Homo sapiens: one gene and its partner. The protein of the gene in region 1 interacts with the protein of each later gene in a biochemical or structural test. Each region holds a gene or a part of one and is shown on either strand. Other genes may lie near its edges.

What was found.
Region 2: of the proteins of GZMH (region 1) and SSB, one has a biochemical effect on the other in vitro, tested with the Homo sapiens proteins (one study listed by BioGRID).

Annotation. Positions count from the first base shown.
Region 1 is NC_000014.9:24,606,572-24,614,629, forward strand, and holds the start of GZMH (granzyme H isoform 1 preproprotein), read right to left. Parts: upstream 3,115-8,058; 5' UTR 3,043-3,114; coding exon 2,988-3,042; intron 1,842-2,987; coding exon 1,694-1,841; intron 1,177-1,693; coding exon 1,041-1,176; intron 836-1,040; coding exon 578-835; intron 176-577; coding exon 32-175; 3' UTR 1-31. UniProt on the Homo sapiens protein: Cytotoxic chymotrypsin-like serine protease with preference for bulky and aromatic residues at the P1 position and acidic residues at the P3' and P4' sites. Probably necessary for target cell lysis in cell-mediated immune responses.
Region 2 is NC_000002.12:169,801,695-169,808,870, reverse strand, and holds part of SSB (lupus La protein), read right to left. Parts: intron 3,398-7,176; coding exon 3,294-3,397; intron 3,207-3,293; coding exon 3,032-3,206; intron 2,087-3,031; coding exon 1,979-2,086; intron 1,901-1,978; coding exon 1,800-1,900; intron 390-1,799; coding exon 318-389; intron 12-317; coding exon 1-11. UniProt on the Homo sapiens protein: Binds to the 3' poly(U) terminus of nascent RNA polymerase III transcripts, protecting them from exonuclease digestion and facilitating their folding and maturation.

The sequences.
Region 1 (8,058 bases):
GCCCAGAGGAAGGTTAGTCTCATGCCTGCTGTTAGAGGCGCTTCATTGTTCTCTTTATCCAGGGCAGGAAGTGTGAGACCTTGATGTAGACTCCTGGAGGTGTCCCTTTTTTGTTTCCATAGGAGAGAATACCTTGGGCTACGTCCTTACACACGAGGGGCCCCCCGGAGTCCCCCTGTGAACAGAGAGAGGAAAGACTGAGCTAGTGTTCCCTGGGATGGGTGGTCTCTGTTATGGATTTTGTGTGACATCAGTGCCAGGCAGGCCTTGTCACTCACCTCCCTCAGTCCTGGGTCTCCAGCATGGCCCTGGCTGTGCTTTCTGGCTCTCCCCAGACCAAGCCTTTCTCTGCAATTCTCACGGACACTTTGGTGATAAGTGACTGTCGGATGACAGATCCTTCCCCTCCAGCCACCCCAGTCCACCCAAGGAGTGGACTAAAGACTAGATTCCAGGGGGACACAGGCTGCCCAAGCTCTGGGCTGAGAGCATAAAGATCTGGCCACTGTCATACCCCAGAACTCCCTCAAGTTCCTCTCTCCCTGTGGTCTTTCTGGGTAGAGGCTGGAAACCCAACCTTGAAACCGGTCTGTGTCTTCTTTGGATCCCCCACACAAATCTCAGTGGCTCTGCTGTAATTGCCATGGAAGAGACGTTCACACTGGCAGTCCTTCTGCACTGTCAGCAACACTTCCTGCAGTGTGGTTGCTAAAGTGCTCATTGAGACATAACCCCAGCCAGCCACACTGCACAGCTGCCCTGGCTTCACCTGGGCCTTGCTGCTAGGTAGCCTGAGAGGCCGCACAGCTGTGGTCCACTTGGCCTTTCTCTCCAGCTGGTGGGGAAGAAGCAAGAAAGTCCAGGTCAGGCAATGGCCTTCTGGGCCCCGACACAGTGATGGGGCTGCACAATCTTCCCTCTCCTCTAAGGCACAGGAACTGACCAAGAGGTCAGGATGGAAAGGAGGAAAGGGCCGGCATCCCAGTGGGAGTGGAACCAACTGGACCAAGAAGAGCAAGAGTGGCAGGAGTGTGCCTCACCTGCAGTAGCATGATGTCGTTGGAGAAGTTCTTAGGATTATAGGCTGGATGGGGGATGGGTCTTTTCACAGGGATAAACTGCTGGGTCCGCTCCTGTTCCTTGATATTGTGGGCCCCCAAGGTGACATTTATGGAGCTGCACAGAGAGCAGAGTGAGGATGGGGGTGGAGTCACAGGGGATAGAGCCCAGGAGCAGTGAAGAGCAGATGACAGCTGTGGCAGGGTAGGGCTGCAGCTGAGGGGAAGTTGAAGGGACAGGAGGGCTCCAGGGCTGAGTGACTGTGCCCTCTACTTCACAAAGACATGAAGAGTAGGGCTTCTGGGGGCTCTCTCTTGCCTTCAGGAAATATCATGAAATTGCTCGAGTTTGCATTTTGATCCTTAATGCATGGATTCAACCTTTACTACTGCCTTATTGGGCCAGTGTGTGAAACCATGCCACTTGCTCTGACCTCTGACCCTCTGACCCTCTGACCCTGTCCTATTTCTCAGCCTTTCATCATCTTAGTCCTATTCCCAGGTGGCTGCTCCGATGAGCTTTCATGGGCTTGTGTTACCAGGAACTCTGGAAGCTCCCCTGGGCTGCAGTCCCCAGGAGAAAACAAGGGTCCCTGTAGGGGGAACTCAGGAGGTGAGCTGGTGCTGCTCCTTACCTTCCCTGGCAGTGAGCAGCTGTCAGCACAAAGTCCTTTCTCACTAGGATGCCGCCACACCTCTTCCGACTCTTCTCTTGCAGAAACTGAACAAAGGCCATGTAGGGGCGGGAGTGGGGCTTGGCCTCATGGCCCCCGATGATCTCCTCTGAAAGGAAAGACTGGAAGATAAAGTAGCTGGGGATGGCTGCAGTCAGGAGAGAAGGCTTAGGACGACAGTGATTGAGGGTGAAGTGTTTTGTGTGCTGCAGACAGTGAGGGAGGGGTCCTCCTGAGCTCTGCAGGCAGTACTCCTTGCAGGCAGAGCAAGCTTTTCTGAACTTTAAGTCTCAGAACCTTCTCTCAGAAAGAATGGACAGTGCTTGACTTCTGCATCCTACTGCAGAAACACACATGGAGGAAGAAAGATCTATTTTCACAGTGGTAGAGCCCCAGAGGATCCTGGACAGGACTTCCCAGGCTCCTCCTTTTTAGTGAGTCTCTCTGATTCCTCTGAGCCTCTGCTGTCCTCCTGATTGGTGCCATTTTCTAATGATCTACCCATGAGCTTCTGGAGTTGGATTTTCTAAAATTCTCATGTGCCAGGGCTGAACACATTCTAGGTTCTCAGTAAGTGTTGTTTGGTGCATAAATGAATAGCCTCCAATTAGCCTTTGGCTGAGGTTTAGTGGGGGTAGTGCTGGTGGGATTCAGGACCTCAGGGATGTTAGAGGGGGTTATCACCAGGTCAGTGGAGTAGCTGAGGGCCTGCAAAGGCAGAAGGAAGTGGAGAAATCAACTAAAAATGAATCGCAAAGCCCAGGTGGAGCCAAGGTAATGGGAGAGCTATGGACACAGTCATCTTGCCATCTCTGAGATCAGTTGCACCATGGGCTTCCCTCCTGGCAGGGGTGACTGGGTGGGGGCACTGAATAAGTGGTTCTTAAGCTGAGTCCAGTAACAACTCCTATGACTGCAACTTGGTGTCTGAGCTCCTCTTTCCTGGGTTGGAGTGTAGAGTAATAATTACTTATCTTTTTTAGCTTCACATTCCCTACCAAATGCCTTTCTAAGAACAATCCACACTCCAGGTCATAAAGGAGAGGTCTAGGGAGAGGCTAACACCCATTAAACCTTTTAGGGAACACCCTTCATTTTTCGATCTTTGCTGAGTGTCTATCTAGCCTCAGATTTATAAGTCTGGGTGTGGAATGGGAGGTGGGCTCAGATTGAGGAAAATTCCTGACCAGTGCTCATGGGTACAGGGTATCTTATAAGATGGGTTCAGGCCTCTGGAATAGGGATAGTCACTTACCTGTCCCAGCCCCAGGGGTCAGAAGAAAGGCCAACAGGAGGAGGAATGGCTGCATTTTCTCAGGAAGGCTGCCCAGGTCAGAGCTGTTGGTGTTGACTCCTTCCAGAAACAAATGCTGGAGGGAGATGAAGGAGGGATGGGTACAGTAAACTCAGAGACCTCCTAGACTTGTCCCCTTCTGGTTTTGATGGGTGTCATTATAGAAGGTGGTTTATTAAAATTATCTGGTTTGGTTTAAGTTGACATGGCACTGTCACATTTACACCCCTGCTGCTGAGTAACAAGGTGAAAGCAAGAATAAAGAACAAGGAGGTGGAGCTGTTGAAGCTGTGGCTGCAGCTAGCAGAAAGGCTGGTACTGCAGAAGCTCCTCAGTGACTGAGAACCAAGAATGTCTCCTTTTCTCAGTTCTTGGCTCTTTTTCTACTCAGATAAAATCATGAATAATTATTTAGCAAGCCAGATCCAGGGATATGAGAGACATGGCTCTTGCCCTTGAAGAATTGATGGTTAGCAAGAGTAGACTGAAAATCTGGGGTTAGAGCACAAGATGGTAAGGGCCGTGGTGGGGAAATCTGCCTGTTGGTGTGAGACGGAGGCTGGACTTGCCTTAGCAGTATGCAGAGTTGCACACACCCAACAAATACTGCAAATGGCAACCCATTCCTATCTTACCACTATCTCAGATTCATATTTTTGGGATATTTAGAATCCCCTCTTTAAATATAAATATTCTGTGACAAAGATAACTTTTTTTATTCCACAGTTCTGCACAAAAGTTCTGGACTTGATATTTATTGAACCAAAATGAGTCATCATTGGGTCCACTGAAGTGTAGTGGACTGATTGCTTTATGCTTTGGTTATTTAGCCCTCCTTAAGCTGAGGTGGGGACTGTTCCACTCCATCTATGGTGCTTATGAATGAGGAGGGGATTTCCCTTGAGAAATGCTAGTTGTTGTTGCCAGGTGATGGAAAAATGGATGCTGATCATCCTGATAATAATTGTTCACTAAGGCCGGGCGCGGTGGCTCATGCCTGTAATCCTAGCACTTTGGGAGGCCAAGACGGGTGGATCACGAGGTCAGGAGATCGAGACCATCCTGGTTAACATGGTGAAACCCCATCTCTACTAAAAATACAAAAAATTAGCCGGGCGTGGTGGCGGGCTCCTGTAGTTCCAGCTACTTGGGAGGCGGAGGCAGGAGAATGGCGTCAACCCAGGTGGAGCTTGCAGTGAGCTGAGATCGCGCCACTGCACTCCAGCCTGGGTGACAGAGCGAGACTCCATCTCAAAAACAAACAAACAAACAAACAAAAAACTGTCCACTAAGTATTCTCTCAGTTTCCAGAGAGCCATGTCTCTGATGTCCCTTGGCTCACAGTCATAGGCTGTCCATAAACAAAAATGTGTATATATACATATGTTTGTATATTTATGTATATGAATATATATAAATATATATGTATAGTTAAGTAGGAACATGTAAATGATAAAATTAAACTTACCAAAAATTCTACCACCGGAGATCATTATTAATGCTTAAGCATGTTTCCTTCTACTATTTTTCTAGGTATTTATAAGGTGCTATTCCTGCTATTACTTTAACAGAACTGGGATAGGACTTTAGGTGATAGACTTTTTTGTGATGAATTTTCCAGGTGTTCTTTGAGCTTCTTGTATTTGGATGTCTAGGTATCTAGCAAGGACAGGGGAGTTTTCTTCAATTATTTCCTCAAATAAGGTTTTCAAGCTTTTAGATTTCTCTTCTTCCTCAGGAACACCAATTATTCTTAGGTTTGACTGTTTAACATAATCCCACATTTCTTGGAGGCTTTGTTCATTTTTTAAAAATTATTTTTTCTTAGTCTTTGTTTGATTGGGTTAATTTGAAAGCATTGTCTTTGCGCTCTGAAGTTTTTTCTTCCGCTTGTTCTAGTCTAGTGTTGAAACTTTCCAGTGGATTTTGTATTTCTCTAAGCATGGCTTTCATTTCCAGAAGTTGTGATTATTTTTTCTTTATGATATCTATTTCTCTGGGGAATTTTTCACCCATATCCTATATTTATGTATATATATATTTTTTAATTTTTAAAGTTGTTTTTTCACCTTTCTCTGGTATCTCCTTGAGTAGCTTAATGATCTTCTGGATTGTTTATCTGGCAATTCAGAGATTTCTTCTTGGTTTGGATCCATTGCTGGGGAGCTAGTGTGATCTTTTGGAGGTGATATAGAACTCTGTTTTATCATATTACCAGAATTACCTTTCTAGTTCCTTATCATTTGGGTAGACTATTTCAGTGGAAAGGTCTGGAACTCAAGTCCTGCTGTTCAGATTCTATTATCCCATGGGGTGATCCTTTGATGTGGTGCTCTCCCCCTTCCCCTAGGGATGGGACTTTCTGACCACTGGACTGCATTGGCTGTTACTGCTTTTCTGGGTCTAGCCTCCCAGTGGCGCTACCAGGTTCCAGCTGGTGCTGGGGAATGTCTGCAAAGAGTCCTGTGATGTGATCTCTCTTCAGGTCTCCCAGCCATGGATACCATTACCTGCTCTGGTGGAGGTGGAAGGGGAGTGAAGTAGACTCTGTGAGAGTCCTTGGTTGTAGATATGTGTAGTGTGCTGGGTTTCTTGAATGCTGGTTATGCTAGCAGTGAAGTTTTCATGTGGACACACTCAGGACCTCTGTTTAGCCAGGATGTTGCAGGCATTGGAATTAGGTGTTATCTTCTCCTTCCTGGGTTCAGGGTTATTCTGTCATGAGTTGCTGTAATGGCCTGTGTTGTTTGGCCTCCAGCCAAGAAGTGGTGCTTTCAAGAGAGCACCAGCTGCATTGGTAGTAGAGGGATCTAGGTTTGCCCTAAGTTGGCCAGGGTGAGTATTTTGGTTTCTCAGATGATGGGTGGGGCCTGAAAGCTCCCAAGAGTTTCTATCTTTTGTGTTTGGTTACCAGGGTGAGTAAAGAAATACCATCATGTTGGGGCAGGGTTAGGTGGGTCTGGGCTCAGAGTCTCCTTGGGTGGGGTTTGCTGTGGCCACTGTGCGGGATGTGGGGGTGGTTCTTAGGCCAATGGGGTTATTTTCCAGAGGGGATCTTGGCTACCTCTGTTGTGTCATATAATTCACCAGGGAAGTGGCGGAAAGCTGGTAGCGAGAGGTCTCACCCAGCTCCCACACAGTTGGCAAGGCCAGTCTCACTCCCAAAGTGCCCCACTCAGATCTTGCCCAAGGCTGTGAACTTTCCCACTGAGAAAGCAAGCATGGATTTCAGATATCACCCCTCCCCATCTGCCCACTCCAACGGGAGTGGCTTCTTTGCTTCTGAGTTCATGTGCTCATATTGCCAAAGCTCCCACTCGTCCCCTAGACTCCACTAAAGAAAGTTTGTGTCCAATTGAAACCACTACCAATTTCAGTTGGAAGCTTCCTTCACCTGGTGACCCCTCCCCAATTCCACTGGCTGCCTTCCCTGAGAGATCCTGTGAGATATAGTCAGGAATGGCTTCCCTGGGCTCAAGCTGAAGATTGGAAGTGCCTTGCAGTCTTCTGATACTGATACTTCTACTTTTATATTTTGTGTGACTGCCTACATTTGTTTCAGTTCAAGGTAAGGTTAAATTCTCCCTTGATCTGGATTTTCAGATTCCCCAGTGGGGATGTGTGTTCAGAGGCAGGTTTTTTCCCTCTCACACTTTGGGAACTTACAGTTTTTCACCTGTTTTGCAAAATTTGCAGCAGTGTCCTGCTTCTTTCAAAGGGTGTGTGAATTCCTTTGGTTTTCCTGGTGTGTTCCCGTGGTGGTTCTTGGAACAAAAGAACACAGTATGAGTCTTCACATACTGTTGTGTCCATCTAAGTGGGAGTTGCATGTGGGTTTAAAGAAACCTGACTCATGAAGGACTTCCCATTTTTTGTACTGCCATGATCATCAGTGCATTATTACTGTCTCACACTGTTTCTTCATAGTGTCTCTCATCCTTCAGATCTCACCTTTTACTGGTATTATTATGGATCCTAGTAATTTATTTAAAAAACAGCAAAAGCTTAAACTCTCCTCCTTTGAGTCTCATGGGGTTGGAGTGGAGTTGTTGGTTTGGATCCTTGCCCAGGTAGCTTTCAGATCCAGCCCTCATCTTCCTGCTGCTCTTCTCTGTGACACAGTCTACATCACACAGATTTCTCTGTCTGACAGCTCTGTCTTCTTGGACCAAGCCAATGGGTGGTGCTGAAGAATTAGGGTCTTTTTCCTTCCCACTCTTTCTTCTTAGCTTGCGGACTGTTTCAGGATGACTCCTCTGCTCTCCTCCTGGCTCCAGCTCTCACCTGGCAGGCTAGATATGGTTTCATATTCTGCCAGGTGATCAGGGTCCTGGCAACACTGCTTGCTCCCTCCATGCCTCCAGCTAGGTGTGGTAGTGGCTTCCTGCTATTGCTAATCTCTCGGTTGATTCATTTTACCCTCTTTGGCTCCTGTCATGTAATCAGTTCCCTGGAATAAACTCCTTTTGTTTGCAAATATTTGGAGTGGTTTCTGTCTTCTTGGACCCTGACTAAGACACTCTGGGGTATTAATTTCTTAGTGCTGTTATAACAAAGTATTACAAACTGCTGGCAGCAGGCAACAGAAATTGATTCTTTCACTGTTCTGGAGGCCAGAAGCCTGAAATCAAGGTATCAGCAGAGTTGGTTCTTTCTGGAAGTGTCTGGCAAAGTCTGTCCCATGCTTCTCCTAGCTTCTAGGGGTATCAGCAATCCTTGCCACTGCCTCGGCTTGTAGATGCATTGCTCCAATCTCTGTATCTGTTGCTGGGTGATCTTCCCTGTGTGTCTGTGTCCACATTTACCTGTTTTAAAGTGATGCCAGTCATTTGATTAGGGTCCCTCTTAATCAAGTATGAACTTATTCTAACTTAGTTACATCTGCAAAACCCTGCTTCCAAATGCTGTCACATTCATAGGTGGTGGGTGAACATAAACTTTGGGGGGACACTATTCAACCCAATACAGTTGGATTTTAGTTTGAGTCTTTTGTTCAACAAACAGGCCGAGACAAGGATTTAGTTAGAGGTAA
Region 2 (7,176 bases), on another chromosome or scaffold:
CTTCTTGCTCCCTACAAATAAAAATATAATTATAACATACTTCTATTTACTATATAAGAAAATTAAGTCCTAATAAAGTTAACCAATCATGATCACTAAACTTACTTAACCAAAGCCAGAAGTCCTTAGGTTTTTTTGATCGTCCAATGCTAGACTGCAATGCAATTTGGCCCTGAGATTGTCAAGGCAGCTTAAGATCTCAGTGTTTCACTAGCAAAGAGAAAGGTCTACTGCCACTATTTCAGAGCTCACCAGCTATATTTCTGTCAGAGCTTTAAGGAATTCAAATTATGTCGTGATTAGTTCAACATACTTACTGTTTAGCTCTTAATTTAGCTTCCACTTTATTTTGTTTTCTTTCTTCATTTTTTTTGGCAAAGTAATCGTCCCTAAAGAACACACAGTACAGAGGCTAAGTTCACGAGAACAAAGTTAAGACTGCAGATTATTTTGAATAACTTAAGACATGGCACAGCAATGAATGTTGCACACGCTTACTATCAACATAATCATCAACTAAAAATTCAAAATATGCCAAGGAATTTACTCTCTCATGTTTTTTTATATAACAGCTTTACTGAGGAAAAAATCCATGTGCCACAAAATTCACTCTTTTAAAGTGTACCTTGAATGTTTTTTAGTATATTCAGTTGTACAACCATCACTACTAATTTCAGAACATTTTCATGACCCCAAAAAGAAACCCCCTATCCATTAGCAATTTCATGTTGATTTCCATTTATCATTCATGTATAGGGAAAAAAGTGTATCAGAAGTCATGCAAATAATATTGCAGTTTTCTATAGTGTTAATTCCACAAAAGGAGAAAATTCTAAAATCCCCAAGATCCAACAATAACATATGAAAATCATGTTAAATAATTTTTGAGGATTTAACACTGATACTATGACCCATCACAGTGCATCTCTAAGTCAATCAAGTTTAGTATATACCATTTAGAAGACTAATGCACAGTCTTCTAAAGTAGGGAACTATGGCCCTACACCTAATTTTATCATGAAAATGCTCTGGTTCATCCCCATTTTTAGACACTTAGACAGACACACATTCACAAAGAATGTGACCCAAATCTCAAATCCTTTGTACTGTAAAAAAAAAAAAAAAAAAAAAAAGACATATAGGCTATGAAAAATAAGATGAAAACTGCATTGATATATTTTCCAAACACACAAAAGACCAAATTTTAATACCCAGCCTGATCAAAAGTTTTAGATGCAAAATCAGTATTAAAACATAACCTCCTTTAATAATGGCTAACAGTGGCTGGGCGCAGTGGCTCACGCCTGTAGTCCCAACACTTTGGGAGGCCAAGGCAGGCGGATGATCTGAAGTCAGGAGTTCAAGACCAGCCTGGCCAACATGGTGAAACTCCATCTCTACTAAAAATACAAAAATTAGGTGGACGAGGTGGCACGCGCCTGTAGTCCCAGCTACTCAGGAGGCTGAGGCAGGAGAATCGCTTGAACCCAGGAAGCAGAGGTTGCAGGGAGCCAAGATCACACCACTGCACTCCAGCCTGGGTGACAAGAGTGAAACTTGTCTCAAAAAAAAAAGAAAAAGAAAAAAAAATTGTTAACAGTGAAAAGGTACTAATGAACACTTTTCTTATAGTCTCAAAAGACTATAGTTCTCACTGAACAAATATCAAGCATTTCTCAAAGGTCATCTAAAGATACTAAGAATATTGGCCTTTCAGGGGATACTACTTCCATGCTCCTTACCCTAGTGTGTGTCCATATAAGTAAAAGGCCAGGAGAAACATCAGCAAAAAGACTTACTTGAAAAGTATTAGCAGGTCTGTTTCTTTGTACTTCTGGCCAGGGGTCTCTACAAATTTCTTAGCAGATTCAATGCTATCAAACACAACAAAAATTGATCCCTGTAAAAAGGAAGGAAAATATTTTTTTAAGTTATGTCCCATATATTTTAAAACTAGAAAAAGTCTGTATTATCATACCTTAAATGCTTTATGCAATGTTCTTCTCATCTGAATATTTAGTACTTGACCTTTATCTTCTAACCATTCTTTTATGTCATCAAGAGTTGCATCAGTTGGGAAGCCTTTCTGTGAAGAGTGGGAAGAAATGTACAAATAACAAATAATGACTTCTCAGATAAACAATTGGAGAGAATTTGATTCATTTTTTCTTGAAATGAACCCAGGATATACCTATCTATCTCTATTTCTCTTTGTTAATCACTTAACAGCCTTGTTTAGGAGCCACTACTCTCCAGTACAATAAAAGTGATTCATCTGGTATTTGCTTCAAAATAATTCAGTTGAAGCAGAAATAAAACAAGATGATTTGCATGTTCTGTTATTAACTACTAAAGCTGGTGATGGTACATTATTGAATCTATTTATATATGTATCTGAAATTTTCCGTAATAAAAAACTATTTAAAAATACACTAAAGAAAACTGCAATCAAGTTTAGCTGCTGATAAATAAGAACAGCTAATAGGCAATAGGTGCTTAGAATATGTCAAAGATTTCATCCAATGGTATATATATTTTTTTTCATTTAATTCTCACAACAGTTCTACAAGGTAGAAAATATCCACGTTTATGAAGATAAAACTTAGGACTAGGCATGGTGGCTCACACCTGTAATCCCAGCACTTTGGGAGGTCAAGGTGATTGGATCACTTGAGCCCAGGAGATTGACACCAGCCTGGGCAACACAGGAAGACCCGTCTCTACAAAAAATTTTTTGCCAGGCATGGTAGCATGCACCTGTAGTCCCAGCTACTCAGGAGGCTGAGGTGGGAGGATCACTTGAGCCCAGGAGGTCAAGACTGCAGTGGGCCATGATCACACCACTGCACTCCAACGTGAGCAACAGGATGAGACTGTCTCAAAACAAAACAAAACAAAAGAAACTTAGGTTAAGAATATTACGAAAGGACATACAGTAATTAGTGAGGCTGTGATTCCTGAGCCCTTATTCTTCCGTACTTTACTTTCTAAATAAATGTAAGATATTTAAATGCATTACAGGCCCACTTACAATATAAACAGATCTGTTTTTTACATCATTTTTATACTCATCAGTCACTTCAGGTAGGGGTTTGCTTGGAGACCTTCTGATTTTAGTTTTATCTTCACTGATTTCCATGAGTTCTGCCTTGGATTTGCTCAATGCTTCCACAATTACATTAAAGTCTGTTGTTAGACGGTTCAACCTGAAGAGTACATATAAAAACATAAGACTCAGCAGTAGCACTCATTGTAAACAGAAAACCTAAAGATTATTTTTAAAAGCTTGTTACCTGTTGAATTTTATCATTATCTCCAAAGGTACCCAGCCTTCATCCAGTTTTATCTGTTCCTTTAGAAACTTGTCCCGTGGCAAATTGAAGTCGCCAAAATAATACTGTGAGATAATTACAATGTATTTCAGAACACTGTATAATATGGACTCCAATCCTGACATTACTCTACAGTACCAAGTTCTGTTATTTAAAAATACATAAGTTACAAAAGGCAAAACACTTTCCCCAAATATACAATAATGTTTACAAATTAGCAAAAAGATAAAACTAAAATGTCAATTACTAAAATAGTGTAACAGATGTGTCAATAGACTAGAAAACCTTAAAGAAGAATATATTTAAAGATTATATGAAAAGGCTCTTGCAAATCAGTGTGGAAAGAACAGATGGTTAAATAAAAAGAACTGGAAGAAATTGGTTAATCACTCAATTCTTATTTTTTTTTGAGACAGAGTCTTACTCTGTCGCTCAGGCTGGAGTGCAGTGGCATGAACTCAGCTTGCCGCAACCTCCGCTTCCCAGGTTCAAGTGATTCTCCTGCCTCAGCCTCCTGAGTAGCTGGGATTACAGGCATGTACCACCACGCCCAGCGAATTTTTGTTATTTTTAGTAGAGACAGGGTTTTACCATGTTGGCCTTGAACTCCTGATCTCAAGCGATCTGCCCACCTCGGCCTCCCAAAGTGCTGGGATTGCAGGCATGAGCCACCACACCTGCCCTTCTAATTTTTTAAAATTAAAAAATAAGGGACGGGGCCAGGCACGGTGCCGCACGCCTGTAATCCCTGCACTTTGGGAGGTCAAGAGATTGAGACCACCCTGGCCGACATGGTCAAACCCCGTCTCTACTAAAAATACAAAAATTAGCTGCACATAGTGGCACACACCTGTAGTCCCAGCTACTCAGGGGGCTGGGGCAGAAGAATCATTTGAAACCGGGAGGCAGAGGCTGCAGTGAGCCAAGATTGTGCCACTGCATTCCAGCCTGACAAAAGAGTGAGACTCCATCTCAAAAAAGGGGGTGGGGGGCCAGGAGTGGTGGTTCATGCCTAATCCCAGCACTTTAGGAGGCTGAGGTGGGTGCATTGCTTGAGTCTAGGAGTTCAAGACCAGCCTGGGCAACATGGCAAGACCCCAGCTCTCCAAAAAATAAATAAATAAATAAAATAAATAAGAAATAGAGGTACGTGCCTCTAGTCCCAGCTCAGGAAGCTGAAGTGGGAGGATTGCTTAAGCCTGGCAGGTTGAAGCTGCAGTGAGGCATAATTGTGCCACTGTACTCCAGCCTGGGCAACAAAGTAAGACGCTGCCTCAAAAAAAAAAAAAAAAAAAAAAGTTAAAGTAAATGTTTCTCAAATTTAAGCATAGAGGAACTCTCAATATACAAGCCAAGGAAAAACCCAAGTATGACTATTTGGAATGCCAGAAGTAACATAAAAAGTAAAAGACAAACAAATTTTGTCAAGAATTCTTACAAACAAAGAAGAAGGGTAAAAAGAGAACACCCTAATAGAAAACAGTTAAAGGATATTTTATTGGCCTCGCACGGTGGCCCAAGCCCATAATCCCAGCACTTTGGGAGGCTGAGGCGGGTCAATTTCTTGAGGCCAGAAGTTCGACAACAGACTGGCCAAAGTGGTGAAACCCTGACTCTACTAAAAATACAAAAATTAGCCACACATGGTGGTGCACGCCTGTAATCCCAACTACTCGGATGGCTGAGGCACAAGACTAGCTTGAACCCGGGAGGTGGAGGTTGCAGTGAGCTGAGATCACCGCCACTGTACTCCAGCCTGAGAGGAGAGCAATACTGTCTCTCTGTCTTAAAAAAAAAAAAGACACTATTTTTCAGGGATCGGGTCTTGCTTTGTTGCCCAGACTGGAATGCAGTGGTGCAACCACAGCTCACTGCAGCCTGAAACTCCCGGGCTCAATTGATCTTCCTCCTCAGCCTTCCAAGTAACTAGGACGACAAGCACATGCCACCATGCCCAGCTAATGATTTTTTTAAAAATTATAAAAAATAGGCCAAGCGCAATAGCTCATGCCTGTAATCCCAGCACTTTGGGTGGCCGAAGCAGGTGGATCACCCGAGGTCAGGAGTTCGAAACCAGCCTGACCAACATGGTGAAACCCCGTCTCCACTAAAAATACAAAAATTAGCCGGGCATGGTGGTGTGCACCTATAATCCTAGCTACTTGGGAAGCTGAGGAACCTGGAAGGTGGAGGTTGTGGTGAGCCAAGATCACGCCACTGCACTCTGCACTCCAGCCTGGGAGACAAGAGTGAGACTCCATCACAAAAAATAAATAAATAAATAATGTACTGTAAACTAAAAAAAAAATCCAACCTCATTTCATTGTTAATCAAAGAAATACAATTTAAAGCAACGAGACAGCATTTTTCACCTAACAAACTGGCTAAGATTAGAAAGAAAACCAAGACTACCTAGTATTGACTTGAACACAGAGAACTAGCCATTCAGGTAGATGTAAACTGACAATTATCAGTGTTTTTTAAATGTGCATAATCCTTGAGCCAGTATGGCTCCTTCTAAGAATTTTCCTTGAAGAAATCAATAAACATGTTTACTAAGATTTATATATAAGAATATTTGTCAAAGAATGATTACAGCTAAAAAAATTAGAAACATCCTTCATATTAAAGAGGAGAATGAAAAGATTATTGATTACAAAACTTTTCTCCACAAAAATGCATCCTATATTTAGCGGGGGAAAGGGAAGGAAATAAAATTGTTAGAAATGTACCACTCTGGTGGGGGATGTTTTAAAAGGTGAAGGCACTATGCTTGTGTGGAGGCAGGGGATATATGGAAAATCTCTGTACCTTCTGCTCAATTTTGCTGTAAACCTAGAACTGTTGTAAAATATAAGGTCCACTAAAAAAATTAGTATGAGCATGAAGCAAAGTGTCAAAAGCTTTTAACCTTGATAACCTCAGAAGAGTAGGATTTGAGAGTTAGCAGGTTGTGGGAGAGATACAACCTTTTCTATATACATCTTAGTATTGTTCTAAGTATTAAACACAGAATGAATAATTTCTAATTTTTCTCCTCATAGTCATAAAGAAATTAATACCAAAAAAAGGAACATGAGACATTTTAAATGCAGAGACGTGCAGCTTAAAAAAAAAAAAAAAGCAGTTCTGAGAATTGCAGAAAAACCCCACACCAAACAATATGATCTGAGGGGTTCTTAGCAAGAACCTAAGTTTAGAGATAATTTCCCATGCAACCATTATCGATATTGTAAAGATTTTAAGGTTTTTTTCTTTTTGAGTTTAATTGAACAAAGAACGATTTGCAAATCAGGCAGCCTCCCCAGCCAGAGTATGCTCACGAAGACTCTCAAGTTTCTTCCCCTCGCCCCCTGAAACAGTGTCTCGCTCTGTCATCCAGGCTGGAGTGCAGTGGTATGATCACAGCCACTGCAGCCTCTACCTTCTGGGCTCCATCAATCCTCCCACCTCAGCTTCCCAAGTAGCTAGGACTACAGGTAAACTGCTAACACACTCAGCTAATTTTTAAAATTTTTTTGTAGAGATGGGGCCTCATCATGTTGCCCAGGCTGGTCTCTAACTCCTGGACTCAAGCCATCCTCCTGCATCAGTACTGCAAAGGTACTACGGATCACTTGAGGTATTACGTTAACATAAACATAATACCTAAATTTGAAAAAATGCTAAGAGGGTTTTGAAAACAGATACTATATTAAAGTTACTGGCTGGGCACAGTGGCTCACACCTGTAATCCCAGCACTTTGGGAGGCTGAGGTGGGCAGATCACCTGAGGTCTGGAGTTCGAGACCAGCCTGGCCAACATGGTGAAACCCTGTCGCTACTAAAAATACAAAAATTAGCC